Homo sapiens: one gene and its partner. The protein of the gene in region 1 purifies or fractionates together with the protein of each later gene. This does not show direct contact. Each region holds a gene or a part of one and is shown on either strand. Other genes may lie near its edges. The genes, in order: TBC1D8 and JPH1.

The links.
Region 2: the proteins of TBC1D8 (region 1) and JPH1 purify together in Homo sapiens (affinity purification with mass spectrometry; one large-scale study listed by BioGRID and IntAct). This does not show direct contact.

The regions. Positions count from the first base shown.
Region 1 is NC_000002.12:101,148,583-101,152,803, forward strand, and holds the start of TBC1D8 (TBC1 domain family member 8), read right to left. Parts: upstream 2,801-4,221; 5' UTR 2,672-2,800; coding exon 2,545-2,671; intron 1-2,544. UniProt on the Homo sapiens protein: May act as a GTPase-activating protein for Rab family protein(s).
Region 2 is NC_000008.11:74,237,720-74,241,739, forward strand, and holds part of JPH1 (junctophilin-1), read right to left. Parts: intron 1-4,020. UniProt on the Homo sapiens protein: Junctophilins contribute to the formation of junctional membrane complexes (JMCs) which link the plasma membrane with the endoplasmic or sarcoplasmic reticulum in excitable cells.

The DNA of each region.
Region 1 (4,221 bases):
GAAACAAAAGCTGATAGTATTTCTGAAGTTAGGCAATTAAGATTACTTCAACCACCAGATCTCCTCTGTCTAAACTCCTACTAATACAAATTCAGCATCACAATAAAGGAAAAGAGATGTTTATTGATTACTGCTCTCTTACATTTTACTTCCAATCCCCCTTAGGCCACCACTGCTTGCTTCCCTCCAAACAAAAGTCTACAACCTGCCAGAATGTGTATCACTGTAGCCCTCATTCTTTTCATAAACTCAATCTAGGTTTTAAACTCTTAAATTGCTAACAATCTGCCACATTAGAATTGCACATTTTCCAAAAACCGCCACCACCACAGAGCTGCCCTGTGTCCCATGGGTCTTGACTTTACCACAATCCTAAGTGGTCCCATGAAGACCAGCCCCCCACAGCACACGTGGCAGGTCAGCGCTGCTTCATCGGCATTGGCTTCCCAGCTAAATGCTCAAAGGTAAAGTGTCTGGCTGCACATGTCATCCTTTTCAAAATCAACAGGGTCTCCAAGAAATACATCAAGTGTCCTCTTTTTGTAGACTTTTCCCTCTTTATGGTCGATCTTGTTGCATTTAAGCATAAGAAAATTCTGCACATTCACAGTAAGTCCAAACCGAAGTAAATATCAAGGAATGCCAGAGCCACAGGTATAATAATAATATGGGACCTGCTTGATTTTGGAATGAAACAGGGAGGGAATTCACTGAGTTCATCACAGAGACTCTGGACAACAGAGTCAGAAACCCTCTGGACAGGAAGCGGGCTTGAAGCCAGGCATCCTATGGCCAGCTCTGCCCTCCGTGTCTGGAACCATCTCACCCACTAACTAGATGGTGAATCGGCTGAAGGTAGCCGGCCCTCACCGCCTGCTCTCGGGCCTCTTTCCAGAGCAGCGAGCAGAGTATCCTACATATGTGCACGGAACTCAGTGAATGAATGAGCGTTTACGGGACAAACTGTCCTTATGTTTCTCACTTCACAAATCTTCAGGCCTTGTCCTCACTCTCTACTAAATGAAACATTTATAGACCAGGAACCCTGCTAAATGCACCATAAATAAAGATACACTGCCCTCAAAGAAAGGGAGGGACGACAAATTCCTGCCTCTTCGCCTCTTCCCAGGGCACCACCCACCTCCATTTCCTGAGAGCCTGGGCACTAAGCACCAGGGTGCGTCACGGGGCCCAACAAGGCCACTGTGGCCCCTGCCTCCTGCACAACTCCCTCCCCCAAAGCTCAAAACAGCTCCTGGAGCAGGCCCACGTGCTGCCCAAGTTGCCCAAGTTGAGTCCTTGTTGCCACTCAACAGGACCACTGGTTACCAAAGCACCGCCTCCGTCCAGAATCCTAACTACACTCTGCCCCTTCCATGGGGAACCCTCAGCTGCCTACAGCTCCCTCCATGCAGCAACCTGCCAACTCCCACCCACTCACCCGGTCTCAGTGTAAGTCTGCACTCCTCTAACAAACCCAACCGCCAGCTTTCTCAGAAGCTAAAGTCCAGCAAAATCCAGTTCCTTTGCACTTGGTTCTGCGGTTTCCAGGCGTGTTAGTACATCTCCTACCAGACTCAACCTCAAAAAGGCCTTCCCTAGACTGGTCTGAGAGCAGAAAGAGCCGCCAACCACTAACCCGGGGACCTAACCTAGGTCCTTTGACCTCTCTCTGGCCTCTGTCTTCTCCTCAGTAGAACAGGAACAAGACAGGAGATCTAAGCTCTCTTTTATTCCGATTCCAAAATTGGAAAGAAAAATATAGGCCCCCTAGATACAAATGAAAAAGTCTAATTGTTCCTTCACTGACCTTTAAACAGGTGTCCTAGCTACTGCAAGTTGGCGTCAATTTCAAAGAGCTTTGGAACAAAACTTTTAGAAAAAAAATGCTTTGTTTTATCATCAACTTTACGAGCCTGGGTTTTTTTTCCTATCATTCCTTGTAAGACACTGAAAGAGAGGAAAAAACTGATCTGTTCAATTTCTCTACTGAGATCACGAGCTTGGGATTCGCCCACCCTCAGTTTCCCCTCCGGGCGTGGAGACAGTTCCCGCTCACCGCGGCCTCCAAGAGCTGCGCCCCGCGCGCATCGCCGCGCGCCCCCAGCCACGACACCACCTGGAGCCTCCGGCGCCTCCAGATGGCCGAGTCCGGGCTGGCTCGGCGCACCCCGCTGTCACCTGGCCCCACACAGCAGCCTCGCTGCTCCAGGGCGGCCCCGAGCCCTCCGGCCCCGCTCCACCCGGCGTTTCTCCTTCGATTCCCAAGTCGAGTCCGGCCTCCAGCTCACCGGGCCAGGCGGCGAAGACACCTGCCTCGCCCGGAAAACGCACGCGCCCGGGAGCCCCCTCTACCACCACCTCGACGGGAGCCCGCGGGAGAAACGCAGAAAAAAGGAAAACAAGCCCGCGGCAGGGCCGTCCGGGCCCCGCGTCTCCCAAGAAATCGCCTCTGGCGACGCAGCCCGGGACTGGGGGCCGCGGGCCCGGCGGGGTGCGAGGCCCCGGGCCCGGCCGCCGCGCCCGCCCCGGCGAGCCCCTTACCGGTGAGGCGGCCGCCCCCCTCGCCGTGCCCGCGGCGCCGCTGCAGGATGAAGTAGCAGCTGCTCTTCTGGGTCACCCAGAGCTTCAGCGCGTTCTTCAGCAGCACCTCCTCGGGCTTGAGCCACATCGCGGCGGTCCGGCCGCGCCCGCCGGCCCCAGCTCACATCTCCCCGGCCGCCGGTCGCTGTGAGCCGAGCCCGCTCGAGAGGCGACGGCGGCGCGCGGGGACCACAGCCCGGCCGGTGCCCAGCGCTCTGAGAGCCCGCGGAGCGCAGCAGGCGCAGCTAGCCCCGCGCACCCAGCGCGGCCCTCACGTGGCCCCGCCCCGCACCCGCCCCTGGCCCCGCCCCGCACCCGCCCCTGGCCCCTCTCCAGCCGCCGGCCCCGCCCCCGACCGCCCCTACCCCGCGGCTCCCGCGGCGCCTCCCGGGTTTCCGCGTCCAAGGCGCTCCGGCGCGCAGTTCCGGAGTGGAGGGAGGAAGTCCAATCCTGCGCCAGGCTCCCTCCCTCCCGCCTCTCCGCGCTCTCAGGGGGAACTCGGGAGAGCTGCCGTCCCTGACCTCGACCTGAGACGTGGAGGAGGGACAGGGAAAAAGCCTTCTTCTCGCAGCTGCAGGTTGCCCCACCGAGGGCATTTTTCCGCACCGAGGGGGCGGGGGGCAGAATGCACGCCAGAAAACCTAAGTGCGCTGGGTTTAAAATAGCAACAACAACAAAAATTACAAATAACCAAAAAACAGCATAAGAATTAAAAACAGTTATATTCCAATGTTTTTAATACTTGGTTCACATTTTGGATGCTCTCCCCAGGGATCCGACGGCGCTGCGGAGGCGGCAGCGATGTTTGGGATCCTAAAGAAAGCATCAGACCAGACTCAGGTCTGGACGTCCCTCAAGTGGCCCGGAGGTACCGATATTAGTGTCACCGCCGTCAGTGCCCTGCCCAGAAATAAAACCTTTGTTCTGAGAGAAATTGAAAAGCTGGAAAATATGGAGTAGGCGATGTGAAGAGAAACTACAGGGAATGTAGAGGTCGGGTTTTAAATGCGTATTTCCTCAAGGATGTTGTGGAAGCAGAGACAAGGTGGCTGGCCTGGAGCAGGCTGGAGGACCTCCAAGGATCTCCACAGGGAGGCAGTTACATTTAACACCCTACCTAGCAAAAGAAGAAAAGAACAACCCCATGAAAACATCCCTGGGGTTTTAACAAAGGAATCCCTGACAAAACGTGACTGATAACTAGGACAGAACTGAAAAGTGGAAGTAAAGTCAATCCCGACCCCCCAGGACGCCTGGGAACTCAGGGAAGCGCCTCCAGAAGGGAACAGCTCAGAAACCCTGACCAGACCTGGCGGACAAGAACCGTGTGGGCGGGGGACAGGAACGCCCACCCAGAGGCCGGGAGAGCATGGTCCAGGACTGGCAGCCACTAACAGCCTCTGAATGAAACTGAGGAAGGAAGTCAATGGTAATCGGGACCATTAGGGTGCACCAGGGCATATAGAACAGTCGGGGACGGTAAGAAAACATTCCTTCCAGAGACATTCACTGGCACCTCCCGCGCAGACACACTGCCAGGCCCGGGAATCGCAGAGATGAACTGGGAGACTTGTCTGCCCTGGAGAACTCACAGGTAGGAAAATGAGGCAGAAAAGAGCCGTAGGCTTCCTAACAGGA
Region 2 (4,020 bases), on another chromosome or scaffold:
TGTAGGACAAAGCCACCTCCAAGGAACAATTCAGGGAAAACTCAAAACGAGGTTCTCTACCTCTTGCTTTTTCCCTGGTCCTCTGTTTGGACACCACCCTTTCCGTTAAGTAAAAGCTGTAAGTGAGAAGTTGGATACTTTCAGAAGTTATCTTACAGGCCCAGCTTTTCAAATTTCTCTAATCACAACCACAACATTTCAGAAATGAAGTTATATTTTACAAACTATGGGATCCTATTTTGATAAATATCATTATAATAAATACCAGATAGTTGTCCAAGGGCCCCAAATTTTTACTTGTTTAAACAAACCAACCTCATATAACCCATCTTTTCAGATCTGCTCCATGAAGAAGCCACCTTTATTACAAAGACATGATTGTGGTATTTACTGTTAAAATAATGTCTAATTCTTATATAGCATTAAAAGTATTCTAAACTGGCTTTATGAGGTAGGTAGTTTTATTGTCCTCATTTTACAGAAGAGGAAACAGTGGTACTCCATTTGGATACTGGGTAAGACTACACTGAAACAATGTTACAGAGGCCTCAAAAGTATTGATGTTTTTTGGGTGTGGGGTAAGTGAATAATGGAGATTGGAGCTGTCATTGGTCAAACACTAATCAATTCGGGTCTAGGGTTTGGGTCACACATCATTGACTCAAGAAGGTCTCTTTCCCTGACTGAGCCCACATCTCCGTGGTAGAGGTCAGAGTGCCCTGCTCTTTCTCTATCACAAGGCGTTTCACACTTGATTATCCTTTGTTGTTTAACTGCTATTTTCCCCCACAAGACTCTGAGCTCCACAGTGGCAGGGGCCTTGTCTTATTCACTGCTATGTACCCAGTGCACAGACACGTGACATTGCCCAATTCATTCAGGCAACCAATATTTAATGAGACTCTACTATCTTCCAGCACATTTCCAAGTGCCGTGGATGTGGGTTGTTTTGTTTTGAGACAGGCTCTTGCTCTGTCACCCAGACTGGAATGCAGTGGTGTGATCTCAGCTCATCGCAGCCTTGACCTCCCAGGTTCAAGCTATCCTACCACTTCAGCTTCCTGAGTAGCTGAGACCAACAGTGCGTGCTATCAAACCTGGTTAATTTTTGTATTTTTTGTAGAGATGAGGTCTCACTATGTTGCCCAGGCTGGTCTCAACTTCCTGGCCTTAAGCGATCCTGCCACCTTGGCCTCCCAAAGTGCTGGGATTCCAGGCGTGTACCACAGTGCCTGACCCAAATGTGGGTTGTTAAACGAAATGGATTAAATCACTGAATTAAATGAAGAACAAACAGGGTGATGAGTAAAATGGGGGAGGGAGAGGAAGTAAACATGAGTCCCCTTTAAGTGGGGACTATTAGGCAGAAGAAAAGCATCAGTTCCTAAACCCCAAGTAAATGGGAGGAAAATAAACATTTTTTGCAGGTTTTTATAATGCTGGGCAGTGGGTTAAACATCTCTGAGATTTTTTTTTTTGTTTATTCTTCACAAGTGATTATTAGTTCCATTTTACAGAGCTTAAGAGGACAGGTGTCTTGCTCAAGTTTCCTCAGCCAGTTTGAACAAATTGGAACTCGAATTAAGCTTTAGTCTGGTCACTTCAGAGCTCCATGCTCTTTTCTCTATATGTCTATTAAAGATACAGGCCTTAGTTTAAAGGCAATTTCCCATTCAGTCCTTTAAAATGACATTTTCCTCTATATCCTATAATTTCCACAGTATCAGAAAAACATCAAATTGTGATAACGACCAACTGCTCTTTTAGAATAGTTGTAATTCTAAATTGATAGGAGAGTCCTAACCTGTGCAACTCCTCAATTATGGTTAATTTAGAGCATAGAAATAATGCAGAAAACTCTTATAACTCAGAAAATAGTGGAGACGATCTTTCAATGTCACAACTGAGCACAGAGATTAAGGAAATATTATTACAGGCTAAGCATCCCTTATCTGAAACACTTGGGACCCTAAGTGTTTGGGGTTTCAGATTTTCTTCTGATGTACAGGTTGAGCATCCCGAATACAAAATTCTAAAATGCTGCAATGAGAATTTCCTTTGAGCATCATGTTGGTGCTCTAAAAGTTTCAGATTCTGGAGATTTAAAAAATTTTTAATTTTTGTGGGTAACATGGTATATATGTGATATTTTGATACCAGCATAGAATGTGTAATAATCACATCAGGGTAATGAGGTATCCAACACCTAAAGCATTTATTCTTTGTGTTCCAAACAATCCAATTATACTCTTTTAGTTATTTTATTTTTTGAGGTGGAGTCTTGCTCTGTCACCCAGGCTGGAGTGCAGTGGCGCGATCTTGGCTCACCGTAACCTCTGCCTCCTGGCTTCAAGTGATTCTCCTGCCTCAGCCTCCCGAGTAGCTGGGACTACAGGTGTTCACTACGATGCCCAGCTAACTTTTATATTTTTGGTAGAGACGGGGTTTCACCATGTTGGCCAGGCTGGTCCTGAACTCCTGACCTCAAGTGATCCATCCGCCTCAGCCTCCCAAAGTGTTGGGATTACAGGTGTGGGCTACCGTGCCCAGTTCTCTTTTAGTTATTTTAAAAGGTACAATTAAATTATTATTAACTACAGTCACCCTGTTGTGCTATCAAATACTAGATCTTATTTGTTCTATTTTTTTTTTTGTATCCATTAAACATCCCCTCTTCTCCCCTACGTCTTCACTTTCCATCCAGCCTCTGGTAACCATCCTTCTACTCTCCATCTCCATGAGTGTGATCGCTTTAATTTTTAGCTCCCACAAATAAATGAGAACATGCAAAGTTTGTCTTTCTGTGCCTGGCTTCTTTCACTTCACATCATGACCAGATGTTGGAGCATTCTGGATGTTCCACCTGTACTACTACACACTTAGATTAGATTTTGTTCATGAGTGTTTTAAGAATTTTGGATCATTTCAACTATTCTGGGCTACTGGGTTTATTTTATAATTTTCAAAGGTAATTTAGTGATATGAAAGGTGAGGAAAAATACACCTGGTCAGAACAATACAACATAGACTTTGGTGTCTTACAGTGGACCCAGGAAAGTGAAATAGCAGAGAACGTGCCTTCCATGAAGCCAACTTCTAAAGTCCAAGGTGTGCCTGAACCTTAACTCCCATTTCATAAATCCATATAAGATTCTGTGAATTTATCTAACCCCTTTGAATTAGTGAGTATTTTGAATTTGTATATTCTTTTGGTTTGAATTTAGATTACTATCTTTTCTCTAGTTTTTAGCCCACATATCACTGTACTGGCAATCCAGATTCAATGAATAGTGAATGAGTGCTTTATCCAAAATGAAAAATACATACATATATATTTTTTTCTTTTGCACGCATACACACACACACATATTTCTCCTGTATATGTTCTAATATACACACACATATATATTTATCCTACCAGGGTGGCTCCACTTAGAAAGCTATTTTTAAAGGTGACTCAGTGAAGATGAGGGAAAACTAGACATGAAAGCTTCAAACAGCAACCAGGGGAAAAATAAAAATCCGGGATGCTCTGTTCAGTGGCAGATACCAAGCCCTGGCCTCTGTGTTCTTTATATACCTAGGCACAGGATATGGGGTGAAAAGCTTTAAGGTAAAGTCTCATAAATACGACTGTGGTGGCCAGTTGTAGCTTAAAATAGCAAAATGAAAAAAAAATCTGTCTTGCTTTTCAAGACTGACTGGGACAGGTGTAATACAAGAAGCTGTAGCAGGGCACAGGGTAAGTCTTGATTGGAAGAAATTTTCCAGGTGGTAAGAAAATAAAAAACAGGAAATCAAAATACAGAAAGAAATCCTAACTCAAAAAATTATCTTTTTTTCCTTTAAGAGATTGTCACTCATATTTAAAACTGTAAGGAATTTTCTGCTAGAAGAGTTACTATGGTTTATGTGAAATCTAAAGCTTCTCTAGCTAGAAACACAAGAGAAGAACAAAGTTTAATTAAGTATTAACAGCAAAGTTTAATTATATATATTTACCTCTTTCGGGGGTGAGGT